Homo sapiens: one gene and its partners. The protein of the gene in region 1 purifies or fractionates together with the protein of each later gene. This does not show direct contact. Each region holds a gene or a part of one and is shown in the gene's direction. Other genes may lie near its edges.

What was found.
Region 2: the proteins of P2RX1 (region 1) and GMCL1 purify together in Homo sapiens (affinity purification with mass spectrometry; 2 studies listed by BioGRID and IntAct, with this or other methods). This does not show direct contact.
Region 3: the proteins of P2RX1 (region 1) and ATE1 purify together in Homo sapiens (affinity purification with mass spectrometry; 2 studies listed by BioGRID and IntAct, with this or other methods). This does not show direct contact.

What each region holds. Positions count from the first base shown.
Region 1 is NC_000017.11:3,902,949-3,906,598, reverse strand, and holds part of P2RX1 (P2X purinoceptor 1), read left to right. Parts: intron 1-1,231; coding exon 1,232-1,379; intron 1,380-1,669; coding exon 1,670-1,741; intron 1,742-2,199; coding exon 2,200-2,269; intron 2,270-2,574; coding exon 2,575-2,671; intron 2,672-2,795; coding exon of another isoform or gene 2,796-2,967; coding exon 2,968-3,048; intron 3,049-3,255; coding exon 3,256-3,397; intron 3,398-3,650.
Region 2 is NC_000002.12:69,839,632-69,843,281, forward strand, and holds part of GMCL1 (germ cell-less protein-like 1), read left to right. Parts: intron 1-1,310; coding exon 1,311-1,408; intron 1,409-1,851; exon of another isoform or gene 1,852-1,921; intron 1,922-3,456; exon of another isoform or gene 3,457-3,484; coding exon of another isoform or gene 3,485-3,517; coding exon 3,518-3,630; intron 3,631-3,650. UniProt on the Homo sapiens protein: Possible function in spermatogenesis. Enhances the degradation of MDM2 and increases the amount of p53 probably by modulating the nucleocytoplasmic transport.
Region 3 is NC_000010.11:121,910,960-121,914,609, reverse strand, and holds part of ATE1 (arginyl-tRNA--protein transferase 1), read left to right. Parts: intron 1-716; coding exon 717-820; intron 821-3,458; coding exon 3,459-3,650. UniProt on the Homo sapiens protein: Involved in the post-translational conjugation of arginine to the N-terminal aspartate or glutamate of a protein. This arginylation is required for degradation of the protein via the ubiquitin pathway. Does not arginylate cysteine residues.

The sequences.
Region 1 (3,650 bases):
GACCACCTCCCTGCTCTGTTTTCCTCGCTGTCTCCCAGGGGGTCCCAGCATGGCTGGATCATAATAACAACTAATGTCTATACTGCATTTATTCTGTGCCATCCCCATTCTGAGTGTTTCTACATGTATGAACTCACTCACTTGATCACTACAAGAAGTACCATTGTTGGCCGGGTGCGGTGGCTCATGCCTATAATCCCAGCACTTTGGGAGGCCGAGGCGGGCGGATCACTAGGTCAAGAGATCGAGAACATCCTGGCCAACACGGTGAAACCCCATCTCTACTAAAAATACAAAAAATTAGCTGGGCGTGGTGGTGCATGCCTGTAATCCCAGCTACTCAGGAGGCTGAGACAGGAGAATCGCTTGAACCCGGGTGTAGGAGGTTGCAGTGAGCCGAGATGGCGCCGCTGTACTCCAGTCTGGGTGACAAAGCGAGACTCCGTCTCAAAAAAAAAAGAAGTACCGTTATTATTCCTATTTTATAGATGAGGAAACTGAGGCACAGGGGATTGAATAGCTTACCCCAAATCCCACAGTAAGTATGGAGCTGGGATTTAGACCCAGGCTGTTAGGCATTGAAGACCATATTCTCAGCCTTCGTGCTCTGTTGGGACCTCTGGAAGGAGGAGCACCCTGGAAGGAGGAGGCTTGGCCTCCAGGCCCCAGCAAACTCTGTTCTTGGAAAAGGATTGGAAAGAGTATTTGAATTAGCAGTTTCTTTCTTTCCTTTTTTTTTTTTTTTTTTTTTGAGACAGAATTTTGCTCTTGTCGCCCAGGCTGGAGTGCAATAGCGCGATCTCGGCTCACTGCAACCTCCGGCTCCTGGGTTCAAGAGATTCTCCTGCCTCAGCCTCCCAGGTAGCTGGGATTACAGGCACCCACCACCATGCCAAGCTAATTTTTGTATTTTTAGTAGAGACAGATTTCATCATGTTGGCCAAGCTGGTCTCAAATTCCTGACCTCAGGTGATCCACCCGCCTCGGCCTCCCAAAATGCTGGGATGGCACGCCCGTCCTGAATTAGCATTTTCATAGTGAAAAGCACCGTGGAACTTCAGGCCCAGGCCAGCAGCGGGAGGCAGGGGAGGCTGTCCTGCCTCTAGCCCAAGACAGGAGCTTTAGGAGCAGATGGTGGCTCAGAGGCACATCTGGGGAGGGCGTGGGAAAGCGTGTGACAGGTCCAGCTGGTGCCACAACCACAACTCCCCCTCTGTCCCCACCCGCACAGGTGGGTGTTTCTCTATGAGAAGGGCTACCAGACCTCGAGCGGCCTCATCAGCAGTGTCTCTGTGAAACTCAAGGGCCTGGCCGTGACCCAGCTCCCTGGCCTCGGCCCCCAGGTCTGGGATGTGGCTGACTACGTCTTCCCAGCCCAGGTGAGCTGGCTCAGGTTTGCACCTTCCCCTCACAGGGCCTGTCTCAGAGTTGGGTGGGACTCTGTCCCACGTCCCTGTGGGACCAGCCCAGCTCCTCTTTCTCTCTGGACCTCTGTGAATGCCGGGCAGAAGCAGCCTGGTGATATCACCCCATGTTGGTGGCAGGGGGTGTGGTGGCTGCTGCGTGTCCTGTGGGCTCTAGGGGCCTCTGCTGGGGCAGCGGTGGGGCCCTTGGGGCTCTTCTCCCAGCTCCCAGCCCACCCCACCCTCCCCCTGCCCCTCACTTCTAGGGGGACAACTCCTTCGTGGTCATGACCAATTTCATCGTGACCCCGAAGCAGACTCAAGGCTACTGCGCAGAGGTGAGGACTTCTGCCCGCCAGCCCCCTTCTGGGACTCACAGGGGAAAATGACGTGCAGAGAAAGTCTCCAGGGGCACTGGAGGGGAAGCCAGAGAGGCTTCCTGCAGGGGCCATAGTGATGGAAATTTGGGCGCATATTCACACACAGCAACTGTCAACCCTTGCAGAGCTGAGCCTTCCCGCCCAGCACACGGTGTACCAGGCAGGGTGCCGAGACTTCGTGCCCACCCCCACCGCCCAGCTGACATTGGCAGTGGGCAGCTGGGCATGAGCCCGGGGGGCGCCTCGGCAGAGCAGTGTGGGGGGAAATGGGGGAAGGAGGCTGTGAGCAGGCGTCACTCCAGAGAGGTCTGAGACTCTGCCCCACGCTCTCCCTAGGGCCCTGGGGGGTGGGGAGAGGGGCTCTTCTCAGGACCCCACCCAAGGGGCCTGGGACCAGCAGCTTTTGCCTCCCCCAGCACCCAGAAGGGGGCATATGCAAGGAAGACAGTGGCTGTACCCCTGGGAAGGCCAAGAGGAAGGCCCAAGGTAAGGTCAGCCTCCTCCTGTCCCTCCACAGTCCCCCGGCTGCGGTCCCTGACGTCCTGCAGGCCCAGCTTGGTGCTGACCTGCCTCTCTCCACACCCCTCCCGCCGAGGCGGCCTCCGGGAGGGACTCCCTCCTGCCGTCTCCCCTCCTCCGCCCTGGCTTGGCCTGCCCGTCCGGGACCCAGCCACGTTTCTGTCCTTGGCTCCTTTGCTTGAGTGGCCCGTCACTGGGAGCTCCTGGAGAAGGGGTCTGGGGCGGCCTCCTCTGTTTAGTGCAGGCACCCAGGGGTTTCCCTCTGGCTCCAGGCATCCGCACGGGCAAGTGTGTGGCCTTCAACGACACTGTGAAGACGTGTGAGATCTTTGGCTGGTGCCCCGTGGAGGTGGATGACGACATCCCGCGGTAACACTCTGACCTTCCAGAGAGCTAAGAACAGGGTCCCAGGCCAGACAGAGGGGGGCCTAGGTCTAGAAAGGATCTTTACCCCTTTTTCTGACCCCACCCTCACCCCATCCGCGCAACCTAGGCTGAAGATTCCCCTGGGTCCTGGCCACGCTAGAGCACACCCACCCCTCCACCAGCCCAGGGCTGCAGGCGGGTCCCGGAGGCTCGGCCCACCCCCTGCTGTGCCAAGCTCTGTGTGGGACACACAGGGGGCCTCCTGGGGAGGGGCGGTGAGTGCGTGTGGTGTCCTCCAGCCCTGCCCTTCTCCGAGAGGCCGAGAACTTCACTCTTTTCATCAAGAACAGCATCAGCTTTCCACGCTTCAAGGTCAACAGGTGCGTGGGAAATTCGGGCAGAAATGCAGGCAGCTGGCCGGGGCCGCTCCGGCAGCTCTCAGCTGTCTCTGTCTCCCTCCATTCCTGCTGGCGTGGAAGGAATCAAAGGGGCAATGTGGAGCCTGTGAGGGGTCCCCAGGCTTTGGGGCGTGGTGGGCACCCTCCCGGATGACACACAGCAGCTGTCAACACCTTCCACCCCCACAGGCGCAACCTGGTGGAGGAGGTGAATGCTGCCCACATGAAGACCTGCCTCTTTCACAAGACCCTGCACCCCCTGTGCCCAGTCTTCCAGCTTGGCTACGTGGTGCAAGAGTCAGGCCAGAACTTCAGCACCCTGGCTGAGAAGGTATGGAGCATGGTGCCAGGCACGTGGGGAGGGCTGGGCCGCAGGATCCTGATAAAGGCTTTTTAGGCCCAGTTCATCTTCCCAAGTCTCCTCGGTGAGGGCTGAGTATATGTATGGGTCTGTCCCCTGATACTGGGGCCCCCTGAGCGTCAGATCCATGTCTTCAGCAGGTCCTGGCATGGAACTGGCACGAAGGAGGTGCCCAGAATGAACGGATGTGGGCAGACCTTGTCATCTGGATGTTTGTTGATGC
Region 2 (3,650 bases), on another chromosome or scaffold:
CTTCCAGCCTTGTAGTCTAGAAAACTCCTTTTATCACCTCAAGGTGATAATTTGATGTTGATTTACACCATAGTTTATCAGTTCTGTCCATCTTATCACTAATCTGTTTTGTCATTTGGGCCTTATCAGTTTGTTTACTTATCTTTGTAAATATGCCCACCTGGGATATGGAAGATGTAGGATGGAGGAAGGAAAAGTATGACCATTTTTTTTTTTAATTACATAGAAAATCTGATAAATAATACTGATTATTCCCTATGTATGAAGATGTTTTCTGGGAACAATAAATAAAAATATTGTTTTAGAGCTAAAAGAATCCTTAGTTGAGGAAGCTGAGGCTCAGAGGAGTTAAGGGACTTATTTTGGATCTCAGAGCAGTTTAGTGAGCCTGTGTCAGACTACAGCTCTCCTCATTCCCATTCCAGTGCTCTTGCTGCTCCCCTCATTGGTGGTCCACATGGAAGTACCTGGTGCGATACAAAGGCAAAGAAATACTTTAGTTAAGAATATTTACAGCCTGTAATCCCAGCACGTTGGGAGGCCAAGGTGGGTGGATCACAAGGTCAGGAGATCGAGACCATCCTGGCTAACATGGTGAACCCCATCTCTACTTAAAAAAATACAAAAAATTAGCCAAGCGTGGTGGCAGGCACCTGTAGTCCCAGCTATTTGGGAGGCTGAGGCAGGAGAATGGCGTGAACCCGGGAGGCAGAGCTTGCAGTGAGCCGAGATCGCGCCACTGCACTCCAGCCTGGGCGACAGAGCGAGACTCCATCTCAAAAAAAAAAAAAAGAATATTTACAAAGCAAACCATGTGGGACATTCATAACAGTGGCAGTGGAGGAAGGATGAACAGGCATAGATCACTGTGGGGGCTGGGAATGAGTGTGGCATGGACAGGACTCAGGAGCTGTACCACATTTCTCAGTGGTGGAGTGCTGAAAGCAGCCGGGTTAAGATTATCTTTGAGTCTGCGTATTTGTACTTAACGATTGGTCTACTGAGGAGTATCTTATACAACTTCTTGCAAGGCATCTTGGTTGTGACCACTGATGTCAAGATTACATGTTAGAAGAATGCAGCTAGATTTGGTAGAATAAACAGAAATTTATAACCTTGTTATTAAATTAACAGTGTCAACCAGTAACCATTACTAGCGTTTTAATTAGAGATACTTCTGTTATCCTTTTATGTGCATGCCACATTTAGACGGATGTCTTTGTGTGTGAAGACAGTCGTTGTTGTTATTTGTATAACACTTGTAATAGATATAAATATTATTTCATCCTACATGTGTACCTTGCTTTCAGCACTGCAGGTTGCATTTGGTTCACTGTATCGAGATGATGTCTTGATAAAGCCCAGTCGAGTTGTTGCCATTTTGGCAGCAGCTTGTTTGCTGCAGTTGGTAAGTATGCACGTTATTCGAAGAAAGGTTCAGAATAATAATCTTTGTCTCAAAGTGTGTACTCCAAAAACAAAAATAAAGCTTAGCTTTTTTGGAGTTTTTAAATAAAAATGAAATGTATAAATATGACATTTATTATAAATCATTTAAAATGCCTAACCAAAAGCAATTTATTACAACCGAGGGAGTCATGATGTCTGCATAAAATGAATGCAGGCCATTTCTGTGTAGATATCTTAGTATGACTATAATGTGGAAAAAACGTACTTGTCTAAGGTCATTTACAGATTTCATTAATGACTTGACTATTAAGCAGATGGCTTATGATTACCAATTAATTTCATTCATGGGTTCAAATAAACATGCATGCCTACTATTTAAATTTCTCTTAATTTTGAAAGAATTGTGTATAAATCACATATATGTATTTTAATCTACTGGCAGAATGACAGATTTGTTCATTGAAGAGAAGTGTGTTGAGCACTGTGTCAAACTAGACACAGAAAGCCAAAGGTAACTTAAGACGTAATCCTTACTTTCAAAAAGTTCACAACATAGTATGTATGTGTGGAGAGGGGAGGGAGGGTTGATATACAAACCCAAAGGTAAAGTAAGAGCTGTTCAATATTATAGGTATGATAATAAACATCCTGTAGCATTTAGTGAATGGATAAAGAAGGGAGTGGTCAGTTCATCCTGGTGGTGTCACATACGAAAGTTACATTTTCACACAGAGTCTTGAAAGTGTGTTTGTATTGCAAAGTAAGAAGAGGGGAAGGAAGAGCATTTCAGACAGAGAGAACAGAGTAAACTAAGATCTAGTGATGTGAAATAATGGAGGATTCAAGACTCTAACAGAAACATGGCTCCCACATAAACATAAGAAGGATTGCAGAAGAGGGGGGCAGAAGCCAGATCATGAAAATACATCTATACATTGCTAAGAAGTTTAGCATACACAGTACCTTTGGAATATTTTAATCAGGGGAAAGACGAAGTTATGTTTTAGAAAGAATACTTCAGTAACAATGTGACAGATGAATTGAAGGAAAGATGAGTACAGCATTAGAGACAAAAACTTGTTGCATTCGTCCAAGGGAGGAAAGTAGGGTAGTAGCAATAAGCTTGGAGGGGAAAAAGTGGATACCAGAGAGATTCAGGGATAATCCACTGGACTTGGTGATAGACTAAATGTTAAGAGGAAAGGGGAGGAGTCTAGAATGATTTCCAGGTAAGTTTAAAATCCTAATGGAGTCAATGTTTTATTTTAATCTTAAAAAATTGTTTACTTTTATGTGGTATTTTTGTACTGATTTATTTGAAGTATTAATAGCTTGCTAAATATCCTTGGTTGAGATCATTTGATTTTCAAAATGTTTTGATCCTTTCAATACTTACTTCCAATAAGTATACTTTATTATCTAACTCTGGTCCTTTTGGTTTTGTTCTAAATTCACCTTCTGCTTACTTTTATGATTTACTAACTCTTTAACTTAATATACCTGCATGATGAATGTATTTCAGAAATTTGAATGAAAAGTAGTATTCTTCCCATATATTAAAGTTAGTTCACTTAAAACCTATATAAACATTTTAGGTTAAAACTTTAATGTTAATCATTTGAAATAATAATATACTTGTTTTAAGTCTATCTCTTAGATATTGTAGTTATTTTAAACTTGATCACTTTCTGCTAATGCATACTGTTAGTTTAGTCCCATCACATGGTTAACTGACTATGTAGACTTCTTAATTTAAAAAGAAATGGCAAAACAGACAAAATGCTGCTAAAGAAATTTGCAAAGGTCTCAGACAGGGGAAGAATAGAAAAGAAAAAGAATAGCAGTATTCATTCTCTACCTTACTACTCCCCCCCACCTTCCATTTTCAAATTCCAAGTATTTAGTTGAATACTTGCTGAACTTTTTTCAGTATTTTTATTGGACTTGTTAAAAAAAAAAAAAAAAACTTAGGTTTGCTGCACTTAATGAGTTTTCTTTCTTTTCTTTCTTCTTTTTTTTTTTCTTTTACTTTTTAATATGTAAAAGCTGTCAGAGCTAATTTTTCCCACGTGAAATGGGCCTTTCCAGTGCTTATTTATATTTACAGGACGGTTTAATACAGCAGTGTGGTGAGACAATGAAGGAAACAGTTAATGTGAAAACTGTATGTGGCTATTACACATCAGCAGGGACCTATGGATTAGATTCTGTAAAGAAAAAGTGAGTTGCCTTTCTTGTTT
Region 3 (3,650 bases), on another chromosome or scaffold:
TTTTTAGACCTAACTTTCACTCATATTTCCAGAGCTATGAGGTGTCACCAATCCCTAAGACTTTTAAGGGTAATATAGAGAAAATTGGCTTTTTTTTTTTCCACTGTTGGCCTAGGATTCAACTTTCTTTGGTCTGTTAAAACAGCATTGCTTTGTATATCTGTTTTCCAGCTTCTAACACTTCTGTCCTTCTCTTTTTTCTAGTGTTTTATGTCTTTCTCTCTTTAAAAAAAAAAAAAATCTCTTGCTGGGAATGGTGGCTCATGCACGTAATCCCAGCATTTTGGGAGGCCGAGGCAGGTGGATCACGAGTTCAGGAGTTTGAGACCAGCCTGACCAACATGGTGAAACCCTGTCTCTACTGAAAATATAAAAATTAGTAGGGCATGGTGGTGCATGCCTGTAATCCCAGCTACTCAGGAGGCTGAGGCAGGAGAATCACTTGAACCTGAGTGGCAGAGGTTGCAGTGAGCCAAGATGGTGCCAGTGTACTCCAGTCTGGGCGACAGAGTGAGACTCTATCTCAAAAGAAAAAAAAAATCTCTTAACTATAATCTTAGTGTGATGTGGGCTGGGATTAGAGGCTACATTAAGCCCCATCTTTAACCAGAAATCTCAGGCATGAGATGGTCTCATTGTACTAGGTGATATCCAGAACTGATTTCATTTCTTCAAGGTTTGAGTTCACTTTTTAAATATTTATTTTGCTTTCCTAGGTGCCGACCTTTACAATTTCAGCCTTCAAAATCTCACAAGAAGGTTTTGAAAAAAATGTTGAAATTTCTAGCTAAAGGGGAGGTTCCCAAAGGAAGTTGTGAGGGTAAGATGGGCTGGGTCTAAAAACGATTTACTATCTGTCTTTGCAACGGTCCCACTTTCAGTCATCTTGGGAAGGGGAAGGGTCATTAATACAGTCATGTACTGCTACTACTATGATGACAGCGACTACTGTTAGCACTGCTATTACTGTTACCATCGGCCCCCAAGTCAAGGCATGGGAATATATATCAGAAGAGTTTAGCGTGGAAAGAATATTGAGGATCATGTTAAATTTGTGATTTCTTGGAGTTTATCAAAATATCTGTTTCCAGAATGCTTTGATAACTCATCTTTCTTGATCCTAATACTATCCTTATGAAGTAAATAGAAAGTGCCATTGTCTCTCAAGAAGCAAGTGCTTACATGCAGCTTGGACAAGATTGCCCTATTCCTTTTAATGCTGAATAAAGATCAGCTTTTCTGTGTTTGAATAAGGCTTTACTTCAGTAAATTATACTGTTTGAAATCCTCTTATTTGTGTGATCAGTTTTGAATTGTGAGTGGCTTTGCTAAAACATAATAGCATTTATTTAACTTTAGTTACACATGATTTGCTTTTTTTCTTAGTCTTTTTACTAATTTTGGTTTTATTTCTTTAAATTTTCATATTGGGGCCGGGGGCAGTGGCTCACGCCTGTAATCCCAGCACCTTGGGAGGCCGAGGCAGGCGGATCATGAGGTCAGGAGATGGAGACCATTCTGGTTAACATGGTGAAACCCTGTCTCTACTAAAAATACAAAAAATTAGCCTGGCGTGGTGGCAGGCGCCTGTAGTCCCAGCTACTTGGGAGGTTGAGGCAGGAGAATCGCTTGAACCTGGGAGGCAGAGGTTGCAGTGAGCCGACATTGTGCCACTGCACTCCAGCGTGGGTGACAGAGCAACAAAAAATTGGCCGAGCTTCGTGGTGCACGCCCGTAGTCCCAGCTACTCGGAGGCTGAGGCACAAGAATCAGGGAGGTCAAGGCTGCAGTGAGCCAAGATCCTGCCACTGCACTCCAGCCTAGGTGACAGAGCAAGACTCTGTCTCCACCAAAAAAAAAAAAAGGAATTAGGTTCTGAGTTAGAAAAATGAACATGGAGATAAGCATTGAAGATGCTGTCCATTTGTAAATTGGTGGTTGCCTTTCTTTTATTTTTGGAGACGGAGTCTTGCTCTGTCGCCCGGGCTGGAGTGCAGTGGCTCAATCTTGGCTCACTGCAACCTCCACCTCCCGGGTTCAAGGCATTCTGTTGTCTCCGCCTCCCGAGTAGCTGGGACCACAGGCACCCGCCACCACATCTGGCTAATTTTTTTGTATTTTTAGTAGAAACGGGGTTTCACTGTGTTGGCCAGGCTGGTCTCAAACTCTTGACCTTGTGACCTGCCCGCCTTGGCCTCCCAAAGTGCTGGGATTACAGGTGTGAGCCACCACATCTGGCTGCCTCTCTTTCTTTTGTAGTGTTTATATTTGGTTGTTTATTTGACTTGTTACAGGCTTCTGAATTATCTGTGCCTGGAACTAGGAGTGATGTACTCATTAGAGTAAAGGAATAAACAGCTATGACAAAAAGATACCAAAATGCAATAACTAAAAGAAAGATAAAAGTCTGTTTCTTTCGGGGCCGGGTGTGGTGGCTCACACCTGTAGTCCCAGCACTTTGAGAGGCCAACACAGGCGGATCACGAGGTCAGGAGATCAAGACCATCCTGGCTTACACGGTGAAACCCTGTCTTCTCTAAAATTACAAAAAATTAGCCGGGCTTGGCCGGGCATGGTGGTTCACGCCTGTAATCCCAGCACTTTGGGAGGCCGAGGCAGGTGGATCACGAGGTCAGGAGATCGAGACCATCCCGGCTAACACAGTGAAATCCCGTCTGTATTAAAAATGCAAAAAATTAACTGGGCATGGTGGTGGGCGCCTGTGGTCCCAGCTACTTGGGAGGCTGAGGCAGGAGAATGGCGTGAACTTGGGAGGCGGAGCTTGCAGTGAGCCGAGGTCGCGCCCCTGCACTGCAGCCTGGGCGACAGAGGGAGACTCCTCAAAAAAAAAAAAGTCTGTTTCTTTCCTCACATAACAGTTCAGTGTGGGTGTTCTAGGTTGGCGTTCAACTCTTCTCCCCACCAGCCATTCTGGGCTTTTCTTTAACATGTGATTTCCCAGGTTGCTCTGGTTTTTACTAATCCAGCCATTGTGGGGAAGGGTAGAAGTTCAGGGTCGCAAGTTTCCTTTAAAACTAGTGAGGCATAATTGGATGTATCAGTTGTGTTATGTTCTGTTGGCAGGAGCTTGGTCACCACTTGTAAAGGGACTGGCAGTACATTGCCCTGCTAGGGCGCCACAGTTTTTGTTTTTTTTTTTTTTTTTTAATTTACTGTAGAGATAGTGTCTCACTATGTTGCCCAGGCAGGTCTTAAACTCCTGGCCTCAAGCAGTCCTCCTGTGTTGGCCTCCCAAAGAGCTGGAATTACAGGCATGAACCACCATGCCCAGCTGTGCCAGTCTTAAGTGCAGCTCTCTTATTTTGGAGGATGAGAATGGATTTGGTGGACAGATAGTAATTCTGCCACAATGGATAATAGGAACATTGTATTTCTGTATTTACCTAACTGTATCAAATAACCCAGCTGATGGATTTTTAATTTCTTCTGATTTGTAGATGAGCCCATGGATTCCACAATGGATGATGCTGTTGCGGGTGACTTTGCATTGATAAATAAACTGGATATACAGTGTGATCTTAAAACACTCAGTGATGACATCAAAGAGAGTTTAGAGAGTGAAGGAAAAAATTCAAAGAAAGAAGAACCTCAGGAATTACTTCAGTCACAAGATTTCGTAGGAGAGAAGT